4 separate regions of the Homo sapiens genome follow, and all the other regions are linked to region 3. The links come from fine-mapping of genetic effects on gene expression. A gene starts in region 3. Each other region holds a variant in brackets. All regions are shown on one strand. Distances are between the middles of the regions. Region 1 has its middle 20 kb from the start of GAA. Region 2 overlaps CARD14 (caspase recruitment domain family member 14). Region 3 holds the start of GAA (alpha glucosidase). Region 4 has its middle 19 kb from the start of EIF4A3.

What was found.
Region 1: its variant is fine-mapped to the expression of GAA in nasal epithelium (TOPMed, PIP above 0.99).
Region 2: its variant is fine-mapped to the expression of GAA in lung (TOPMed, PIP above 0.99). The same link has a PIP of 0.9 or more in blood mononuclear cells.
Region 4: its variant is fine-mapped to the expression of GAA in monocytes (Fairfax 2014, PIP 0.95).

What each region holds. Positions count from the first base shown.
Region 1 is chr17:80,120,334-80,122,950 of GRCh38, forward strand. No RefSeq gene overlaps it. Among named protein-coding and RNA genes, the nearest start is that of GAA, 20 kb to the left of the region's middle. The variant C/T (reference allele first, on the strand shown) is at 1,373.
Region 2 is chr17:80,203,562-80,206,297 of GRCh38, forward strand. CARD14 (caspase recruitment domain family member 14) reads left to right here. Exons shown (of 24, transcript NM_001366385.1): 19 at 261-324; 20 at 666-780; 21 at 1,474-1,644; 22 at 1,970-2,091. It also overlaps a transcript of SGSH not described here. Among named protein-coding and RNA genes, the nearest start is that of SGSH, 15 kb to the right of the region's middle. RefSeq lists an enhancer at 1,025-2,224. The variant G/A (reference allele first, on the strand shown) is at 1,427.
Region 3 is chr17:80,100,398-80,103,008 of GRCh38, forward strand. GAA (alpha glucosidase) reads left to right here and starts at 1,184. Exons shown (of 20, transcript NM_000152.5): 1 at 1,184-1,493. CCDC40 (coiled-coil domain 40 molecular ruler complex subunit) reads left to right here. Exons shown (of 20, transcript NM_017950.4): 20 at 1-216. RefSeq lists a silencer at 731-1,350 and an enhancer at 1,681-1,790.
Region 4 is chr17:80,127,045-80,129,780 of GRCh38, forward strand. No RefSeq gene overlaps it. Among named protein-coding and RNA genes, the nearest start is that of EIF4A3, 19 kb to the right of the region's middle. The variant T/G (reference allele first, on the strand shown) is at 1,711.

The DNA.
Region 1 (2,617 bases), 20 kb after region 3:
CCCTCCCCACCCCACCTCACCTCCCCTCCCCTTCCCATGTCACCTCCCTTCCCCTCCCCACCTCCCCTCCCCTCCACTCCTCACCTACCCTCCCCATGTCACCTCCCCTTCCCTCCCCACCTCCCCTCCCACCCCACCTCCCTTCCCCTCCCCTCCTCACCTGACCTCCCCTTCCCATGTCACCTCTCCTCCCCTCCCAACCTCCCGTCCCCATCCCACTTCACCTCCCCTCCTCACCTGACCTCCCCTCCCTATGTCATCTCTCCTCCCCTCCCACCGCACCTCCCCTCCCCTCCTCCCCTCCCCTCCTCCCCTCACCTGACCTCCCCTCCCTACCCCACCTCACCCCCTCTCCCCTCCTCACCTCCTCTCCTCCTCTCCCCATTCATCCTCACACTCCTGCTTCCCCCATCTCTAAGGTGACTGGGGAATGTCCAGTGGGTGTTAGGCATGTGGTGGGAGTGTGGCCCCCAGGGCTGTGTAGACAACAGGACCCTGCAAGGAAGGGGCTTTCCAACAGTGGGGCCTAAGACTTTAGGCAGAGGCCAGAAATCTGTCCCCAAGTGATGCAGTTAGAGAGGATTTCAGGCCCAGGTTCTCCCTGGCAAGCCCAGAGAAAGGGAAAGAAGCCCATTTTATTGAAATAACAGCAGGAGAAATCACTGCCCTTAGCCAGTCAGACGCTTCAGTTTATCACTTAGAATTAATGCAGTGGCTCACACCTGTAATCCCAGCACTTTGGGAAGTCCAGGCGGGCAGCTCACTTGAGGTCAAGAGTTTGAGAGCAGCCTGGCCAACATGGTGAAACCCCATCTCTACTAAAAATACAAAATTAAGGCCAGGCGCAGTGGCTCACGCCTGTAATCCCAGCACTTTGGGAGGCTGAGGCAGGCGGATCACGAGGTCAAGAGATGGAGACCATCCTGGCTAACATGGTGAAACCCCGTCTCTACTGAAAATACAAAAATTAGCTGGGTGTGGTGGCACACACCTGTAGTCCCAGCTACTTGGTCTCGCAAGGCTGAGGCAGGAGAATCGCTTGAACCCGGGAGGCGGAGGTTGCAGTGAGCCGAGATAGCACCACTGCACTCCAGCCTGATGACAGGGCGAGACTGTCTCAAAAAAAAAAAAAATTAGGCATGGTGGTGTGTGCCTGTAGTCCCAGCTACTCAGAAGGCTGAGGCACAAGAATCACTTGAACCCGGGAGGCAGAGGTTGTAGTGAGCCAAGATCGTGCCACTGCACTCCAGCCTGGGCGACAGAGTGAGACTCCATCTCAAAAAAAAAAAAAAAAAGGCCAGGCGCGGTGGCTCATGCCTGCAATTCCAGCACTTTGGTAGGCCAAGGCAGGCGGATCACGAGGCCAGGAGTC[C/T]GAGACCAGCCTGACCAACGTGGCAAAACCCCATCTCTACTAAAAATACAAAAATTAGCTGGGTGTGGTGGCACGCGCCTGTAATCTTAGCTACTCAGGAGGCTGAGGAAGGAGAATTGCTTGAATCTGGGAGGCGGAGGCTGCAGTGAGCTGAGATCACGCCACTGCAGTCCAGCCTGGGCGACAGAGTGAGACTCCATCTCAAAAAAAAAACAAAAGAAGTGGCCAACCCCGAAGTCCTCTGCAGAGCGATGGATTACTTTTGCCACCTTCCTGAAAACCAGGAGCAGAAAGTACAGTGACTTCCCCGTGGAGCAGCATGACATCCCTGGGGGGCAGTGTGTCTACCTGGGTGACCAGCACTATTGTCTTCTGGGTCAGCTTTTGTAGAAGCGGACACTGCTCTTCTGCCATGTCACAGGCCAGGGCCTGACCCCCGTGTGCCACTTTTACCATCCAGATTGACATCACTAAGTCATCTCGCGCCCTAAAGTTCCTCTGTAAGGTGGACGTAGTAGTGACAATAACATATGTTACTTCCTCCCCTCATCCTAGTCCCATGTGGGGTTAAGAAGCAGGAATGTTTGTCTTGAGGCCAGCAGCGTGCCTGGTCTCGGTGCTGAGGGCGACCTGCCCTAACGCTCTGCCAGGCTCGCCAGGTCTGCAGTTGACACCCAAGACGTTCAGGGAGGGTTGATGGAGCGTGGTAGCCTCGGCCAGCCTGGACCGACCATCAGCGTCCTCACCTTCTGTGCCACCGCCCAGCCTGGCAGGGCCACTGTAGCCTTAGCCCCTTGTAGGATCTGACCCTTCCTTGGCTGCTGTAACGAAATACCCAAGACTGGGTAATTTATAAACAACAGAAATGGATTTCTCACAGGGCTGGAGGCTGGGAAGTCCAAGATCGAGGCAGGTTCTGTGTCTGGTGAGGGCTGCTGTCTGTATCATAAATGGCGCACTCTCCATCATCGTGGTAGAAGGCGAAGACAAGCTCCCTTGAGCGCTAAATGCCACTGATGAGGATGGAGGGCCCTCAGGACTCATCACCTCCCAACAGCCCCACCACTTTTTTTTTTTTTTTTTTTTTGAGACCGAGTTTCACTCTTGTCACCCAGGCTGTAGTGCAATGGTGCAATCTTGGCTTATTGCAACCTCTGCCTCCCAGGTTCAAGTGATTCTCCTGCCTCAGCCTCCCGAGGAGCTAGGATTACAGGCATCCGCCACCATGCCTGGCTAATTGGATCT
Region 2 (2,736 bases), 100 kb after region 3:
CCCCTGGGTCCCGCCCCAGGACAAGTAAATCAGCATCTCCAGGGGTGGGCCGAGGCCCTGGAGTCTTTTGAAAGCTCTGGAGACTGGCATGGCCGCCAGGATGGAGCGCTCCAGCCTGCAGCAAAGGGATGTGTGGAGCTCTAGGTGGAGGCCCTTCTCTCCCACCCGGCCATCTCCCCCACTCTCCCCTGCTCGGCTCTCCCCTGCCCTGCTCACCTGGCAGGAGGCAGCTGGGTCAGGGCCTCTGCTGGTCTCTGCAGGGCTCAGCAGCAGCTCATAGCCCTCATCCAGGACATGACTCAGCAGTGCACCGTGACCCGCAAGGTGAGGCTCCAGGGAGGGGCCTGGACCCCACTGGGGTGGGCTGGAAGAGGGGCTCGGTGCTGGCAGGGTGGCAGGAGGCACTGTGTGGAGAGTGGGCTGCTGATTGGAGGGTAACCCCACCTGTCTCTCCTCTGCACCCCTTCAAACCAGGGCAGGGTCTGCAGCCCCTGCCCAGCCTGCAGGCTCTTGCACAAGTGCAGACACACCTCAGGCTGTTCTCAGAGCATCTGCGCCTCTGCATCACTCCCAGGTCGCCCTAGTGCCAATCATCTCCCCTGAATTCCCATTCCTGTTGATGGCTTCAACAGCTCCTCCTCATCCTTTCTCTGTCCCTCCTTTAGCCATCTTCTGGGGGACCACAGAAGCTGGTCCGCATCGTCAGTATGGACAAAGCCAAGGCCAGCCCTCTGCGTTTGTCCTTTGACAGGGGCCAGTTGGACCCCAGCAGGATGGAGGGTGAGGCCTGGTGAGCTGGCACAGGGGCCACTGGCTCCAAGTGGGTGAGGGGCTTTGGGAGCTGCTGCTAGTTGGTCAGCTGGGGCAGGGGGATGCCACTCATTTAGGCCAGGATCTGGTCTTCAAGAATCATGGGGCTGGGTGTGGTGGCGCACACCTGTAATCCCAGATACTCGGGAGGCTGAGGCAGGAGAATCGCCTGAACCCGGGAGGCAGAGGTGGCAGTGAGCCGAGATGGTGCCATTGCACTCCAGCCTGGGCAATAAGAGCAAAACTCTGTCTCAGGAAAAAAAAAAAATTTCAGGAGAGGAGTACAGGACAGAGGGAGGGCTAGGACCCTGTGCCCTGGAGGATGGCTGAGGAGAAGGGTGCCACTCTCCCAGATCCTTTGGAAGGAAGAAAACCCTGGCTTCCGCCATCCTCCCTTGGGCCTATAGGAAACAGGATTAAGTTGCAGGCTGCAAAGCAGTCCCTGGAGAGCCACAGAGCTGTGTAACCCCCGTGCAAAGGAGCCGCTCAGCCAGGGGCTATGGAACTGGGAGTGAGTCCTGTGACCGCTGAGCCTGTGCCCCTGGAATTCTAGGTGCTGGGGCTGCTGCAGTGAGCAAAGCAGACCCAGTCCCTCCCGGGGCAGGGTAGGCTGGCT[G/A]GGGGCTGCCGCAGCCTCACCCACCCTCAGGATCCTCTCCTCCACAGGCTCCAGCACGTGCTTCTGGGCCGAGAGCTGCCTCACCCTGGTGCCCTATACCCTGGTGCGGCCCCATCGACCCGCCCGGCCCCGGCCTGTGCTCCTCGTGCCCAGGGCGGTTGGGAAGATCCTGAGCGAGAAACTGTGCCTCCTCCAAGGGTTTAAGAAGTGCCTGGCAGGTATGCTGTTGCCTGGGAATCCCTCTACCCCTTCCACCTTCCCTCCCTCCCTCCTCCCCTTCCTCCCTCCTTCCTCCCCTTCCTCCCTCCTCCTTCCCTCCCCCACCACGCACATTCCCACACTCACCTGCTGTGTCCAGATAGTTCAGGATGGAGGTGCAGGGCACAGAGCGGGGTGTGCAGGGTCAGGTTTGTAAAGTGGACATCCTAAGAAGAGCTTCTCCCAGTGCTGGCAGGGTTCACGGGGACAGGGGTGTTTACCATGGGACTCCCCCAGACCCCCACACAGCTGGTCTATGATGGCCCCGTCCAATGTCACCTGTAGAGTACTTGAGCCAGGAGGAGTATGAGGCCTGGAGCCAGAGAGGGGACATCATCCAGGAGGGAGAGGTGTCCGGGGGCCGCTGCTGGGTGACCCGCCATGCTGTGGAGTCCCTCATGGAAAAGGTGAGGTCAAGGGCGGGGTGGGCAGGGGAGCTGTCCTGGGAAGGGTTTCAGGAATGCAGAGGAGGGGGATGAGATAAAGGTACAGGGACCGACCTGAGACCTGGGTGACCTTGTCGCCGACCTCTGGGTCCCAACAGCCCAGCAGGAGCCCAAAACTCATCTCAGCCAGTTAGGATCCACGTGACTGTGGGTGAGGTCTCCCAACTCCTTGAATCTCAGTTTCCTCAGCTTGGGGGATGTTTAATAGATATTTGTTCGAGAATGAATAAATCCGAGCTAACAACACTCTCCACGTTTGAAGGCGCAAACGCGTGAAAAGCAGCTCCCCGTGAACCACAGCTTTGTGTCTGCACAGGCACGGGAAGCCGAGTCTGGCATCTGCGTGCCTCCTGTAGGGGCTGGCGGAGCTCCATGCCAAGTTCACCTCATCCCCAGAGCTCACAATTTCTAGATTTTCCCAGTGAAAAATCAAAGGGATGGAAACTCTTAATACTGCATAGCACACAGCCTCATTTAGAAAGTGGCAAACTCAGCTGGGCCTGGGGCTCACGCCTGTCATCCCAGCACTTTGGGAACCCGAGGTGGGAGGATCGCTTGAGCCCAGGAGTTCAAGACCAGCCTGAGCAACACAGTGAGACCCGTCTC
Region 3 (2,611 bases):
TAAGAGCACGCTGGGGCGTCCACACCAAGGGACTACGCCCCAGTCTGCCCACCTATCTTTTCTCCATCATTAACCCAGCGCTCTTTCTCCCTGGACTTCCAAGTACCAATGACCTTGGGGCTTCTTTGCAGTTTAAAGGGAAAATGCTCTACAAAATAATTTCACTTTCAAACATTTCAGCAGAAGAATAAAATCTTTTTTCTGAATATCTAGTAAGCCTTTCTGAGTCAGCCTTACTTATTTTAAAACATTGTAGAAATACAGAAACCACAACAGAGGTGGAAGGGAGGCTTTTGTTTTTTTTTTTTTGAGACGGAGTCTCGCTCTGTCGCCCAGGCTGGAGTGCAGTGGCGCGGTCTCGGCTCGCTGCAAGCTGGAAAGGGGGCTTTTAATGCCCCTATGCCCCTACCCAGGAACAACACCTCTGTGTTTTGGTGTGGCTCCTTTTGTATTTTTCTGCACATACATTTTATTAGGCAAGTTAAGGTTATACTGTGTGTTTTTTGTATCTCACATGTAAAAATGTGCTCCTCTTAATGTAAGCATTTTCTCATTTTATGAAAAAATTCCCCCTGTGTCAGTTTAATGTTTTCTCAATTGTCAGTTTTATGGGTTATCACAATGTTTTGATTATTCCTTTCTGGAATAACTGTGAGTTATGGAGCACACTTAAGGACTTTCCAAATGTTGGCTGTTTCTAACTTGGCGCTGAGCGCCTTTGGCCGCCTTTCCGATGATGCCCTCGGGACGCGTTGGCAGGAGGAATCCCTGGGCGCAAGGCGCGGCTGGGCCAGCCCCTTACAAAGCCCTACGAGCTGCGGGGACCCAGGCCGGGGCAGCGGGGGCCACGCCCCATCTCCGACCCCACGGGGACCGGGCCGGGACTGCGCCAGCGGGGGCCTCGCCCCGTCTCTGACCCCAGAGGAACCGGCAGCGGGCAGCACGCGTGGGCCTCTCCCCGCGGGACGCCGGACGCGCAGCCAGACGCGCTCCCCAGGCCCCCTCCGAGAGCGAGGACGCGCCCAGGCCCGCTCTGCCGGAGCCGCCACTGGGGGGCGTAGCGCGGACGCGCACCCTTGCCTCGGGCGCCTGCGCGGGAGGCCGCGTCACGTGACCCACCGCGGCCCCGCCCCGCGACGAGCTCCCGCCGGTCACGTGACCCGCCTCTGCGCGCCCCCGGGCACGACCCCGGAGTCTCCGCGGGCGGCCAGGGCGCGCGTGCGCGGAGGTGAGCCGGGCCGGGGCTGCGGGGCTTCCCTGAGCGCGGGCCGGGTCGGTGGGGCGGTCGGCTGCCCGCGCGGCCTCTCAGTTGGGAAAGCTGAGGTTGTCGCCGGGGCCGCGGGTGGAGGTCGGGGATGAGGCAGCAGGTAGGACAGTGACCTCGGTGACGCGAAGGACCCCGGCCACCTCTAGGTTCTCCTCGTCCGCCCGTTGTTCAGCGAGGGAGGCTCTGCGCGTGCCGCAGCTGACGGGGAAACTGAGGCACGGAGCGGGTGAGACACCTGACGTCTGCCCCGCGCTGCCGGCGGTAACATCCCAGAAGCGGGTTTGAACGTGCCTAGCCGTGCCCCCAGCCTCTTCCCCTGAGCGGAGCTTGAGCCCCAGACCTCTAGTCCTCCCGGTCTTTATCTGAGTTCAGCTTAGAGATGAACGGGGAGCCGCCCTCCTGTGCTGGGCTTGGGGCTGGAGGCTGCATCTTCCCGTTTCTAGGGTTTCCTTTCCCCTTTTGATCGACGCAGTGCTCAGTCCTGGCCGGGACCCGAGCCACCTCTCCTGCTCCTGCAGGACGCACATGGCTGGGTCTGAATCCCTGGGGTGAGGAGCACCGTGGCCTGAGAGGGGGCCCCTGGGCCAGCTCTGAAATCTGAATGTCTCAATCACAAAGACCCCCTTAGGCCAGGCCAGGGGTGACTGTCTCTGGTCTTTGTCCCTGGTTGCTGGCACATAGCACCCGAAACCCTTGGAAACCGAGTGATGAGAGAGCCTTTTGCTCATGAGGTGACTGATGACCGGGGACACCAGGTGGCTTCAGGATGGAAGCAGATGGCCAGAAAGACCAAGGCCTGATGACGGGTTGGGATGGAAAAGGGGTGAGGGGCTGGAGATTGAGTGAATCACCAGTGGCTTAGTCAACCATGCCTGCACAATGGAACCCCGTAAGAAACCACAGGGATCAGAGGGCTTCCCGCCGGGTTGTGGAACACACCAAGGCACTGGAGGGTGGTGCGAGCAGAGAGCACAGCATCACTGCCCCCACCTCACACCAGGCCCTACGCATCTCTTCCATACGGCTGTCTGAGTTTTATCCTTTGTAATAAACCAGCAACTGTAAGAAACGCACTTTCCTGAGTTCTGTGACCCTGAAGAGGGAGTCCTGGGAACCTCTGAATTTATAACTAGTTGATCGAAAGTACAAGTGACAACCTGGGATTTGCCATTGGCCTCTGAAGTGAAGGCAGTGTTGTGGGACTGAGCCCTTAACCTGTGGAGTCTGTGCTGACTCCAGGTAGTGTCAAGATTGAATTGAATTGTAGGACACCCAGCCGTGTCCAGAAAGTTGCAGAATTGATGGGTGTGAGAAAAACCCTACACATTTAATGTCAGAAGTGTG
Region 4 (2,736 bases), 27 kb after region 3:
TGTGGTGGCTCCTGCCTGTAATCCCAACACTGGGAGACCGGGACAGGAGGAGTTCTTGAGCAGGAGTTAGAGACCAGCCTGGGCAACACAGCAAGACCCCATCTCTACAAAAAGCAAAAAATTAGGCCGGGCGCGGTGGCTCACGCCTGTAATCCCAGCACTTTGGGAGGCCGAGGCGGGTGGATCACGAGGTCAGGAGATCGAGACCGTCCTGGCTAACACGGTGAAACCCCGTCTCTACTAAAAATACAAAAAATTAGCCGGGCGTGGTGGCGGCTGCCTGTAGTCCCAGCTACTCGGGAGGCTGGGGCAGGAGAATGGTGTGAACCCGGGAGGTGGAGCTTGCAGTGAGCTGAGATCGTGCCACTGCACTCCAGCCTGGGTGACAGAGTGAGACTCTGTCTCAAAATAAATAAATTTAAAAACTAAAAATAAAAAAATAAAAAATTAGATGCATGCAGCAGCACATGCCTGTGGTTCCAGCTACTAAGGAGGCTAAGGTGGAAGGATTCCTTGATCTCAGGAGGTCGAGGCTGCTGTAAGCTATAACTGTGGCCACTGCACTCCAGTGTGGGTGACAGAGCTGGACTATCTCAAAAACACACACACACACACACACACACACACACACACACACACAACCAAAAATCATTATGCTTTCCCCATAAAACTGCTTAAGTGCCTTTGTTGGAAATCCATTGACCATAAATGTGTAGTCTTTCTGAACTTTCTACTGTTTTCCCTGGATCTACAACAGGTCTATATTTATGACTATACCACACTGCCTTTGCTACTGTAGCTTTATAATATTTCTTGGTATGAGTAGTAGCTTGGTGCACTTTTCCAAAGTTGTTTTGGCTATGCTAGATCCTTTGTATTTTCATATAACTTCTAGAACTAGCTTGTCAATGTTTAGCCCTATCCCCACTCTCCCAAAAAAGGCTTCCTGATATTTTGGTTGGAATTGTGTTGAGTCTGTACATCAACCTGGGGAGAACTGATGTCTTAACAATATCGACTCTTCCAATCTGCTCAGTGTATCTCTCATTTATTTACATCTTTAATTCTCACAGCAACGTTTTGTAGCTTTCAATTACAGAGCTTGCTCATCTTTTGTCAAATATACCCCCAAGTATTTCATGTATTTGATGGTACTGTATATGGTGGTGTTTTCCAAATTTCCCATTCCAAGTGTTCATTCCTGGCATATAGGAATACAACTGACTCTTCTATATTGACTTTGTAGAATGCTACCTTCCCGAAACTCAATTATTAGTTCCAGTAGCTTTGTGGTAGACTCCTTAGGATTTTCTACATAGAGAAACATATAATCTGTGAAGAAAGCCTTCTTCCTTTCCACCCTGGAGGCCTTTTCTTTCTCTTGCCTTGTTGCACTGGCCAGAATCCACAGTGTAATATTGAACAGAAGGGAGAGGACACCTGTGCCTTGTTCCTGAGAGGGTTACTGAAAGCCCCAATTGCCACTGTGGATTTGTCTATTTCCCCTTGCAGTTTTATCCATTTTTCCTTCCTATATTTCCTGTATTTTGAAGCTGTTATTAGGTGCATAGGTATTTAGTATTGTTATATCCTTTTAATGAATTACCCCTTTATCATTATCAAATGACTCTCTTTGTCCCTTGCAATATTCTTTGCTCTGAGATCTCCTTTGTCTAATATTAATAGAGCTGCTTCAGGTTTATTTTGATG[T/G]GTGCGTTACCATGGTGTATTTTTCTCCATCTTTTCACTTTTGTCTTTATATTTCTCATAAGCAATAGTATATAGTTGTGTATGGCTTTATAATCCAGCCTAACAATATCTGTCTTTTAATTTTGCAGTAGGCAATTTGCTTGTTTTCCCTTGCTCGTGCTTTTTGCTTTTTAAGTGTAATTTTAGAGGATGCATGAGATTCCTCATGATATTTGTGCTGAGATGTAATTCACATGCCATAACATTTACCATTTTAAAGTATGCAATTCAGTTGTTAGTACACTTGTACAACCATCACGATTATCTAATTCCAGAACATTAGAATCACCTTCAAAAGAAACCCTATACTCATTTTCAGCCACTCCTTGTTTCACCCATCCCCCTCCTCCCCCCTCAAGCTCCTGAAACCACTGTGAATGGTTTCCTGCTAATCTCTCTATGGATCTACCTGTTCAGGACGTTTCATGTAAATGGAATCACACCACGTGTGGCCTTTTGTGTCTGCCTTCTTCCACCTAGCATATTGCCGAGGTTCATCCAGGTTGTAGTGTGTCAGCACTTCATGCCTTTTTATTGCCAAGTAATATTGTGTGGATTCACCAGTTTTGCTTACAGCTGATGAACATCTGGCTTGTGTCCACTTTTTGGCTCTTATGAACAATGCTATGAACACATTAGGTTTATGTGTGCAGATTTTTTAATTCTCTTGAGTATAGACCTAGGAGGAGAATTGCTAGGTCAACTCCTATGTTCAACATTTTGAGGAACTGCCAAGCTGTTTTCCATAAAGGCTGTGCCTGTTTACAATCCCACTAGCAATGTATGGGGGTTCCAGTTTCTCCACATTCTCCTAAACACTGCAGAGCAGTATATTAGTCCATTTTCATATTGCTATAAAGAACTGCCTGAGCCCGGGTGCTTTAAAAAGGAAAGAAGTTTAATTGACTCACAGTTCAGTGTGGCTGGGGAGACCTCAGGAAACTTACAATCATGGTGGAAGGCGAAGACGAAGCAGGAACCTTTTTC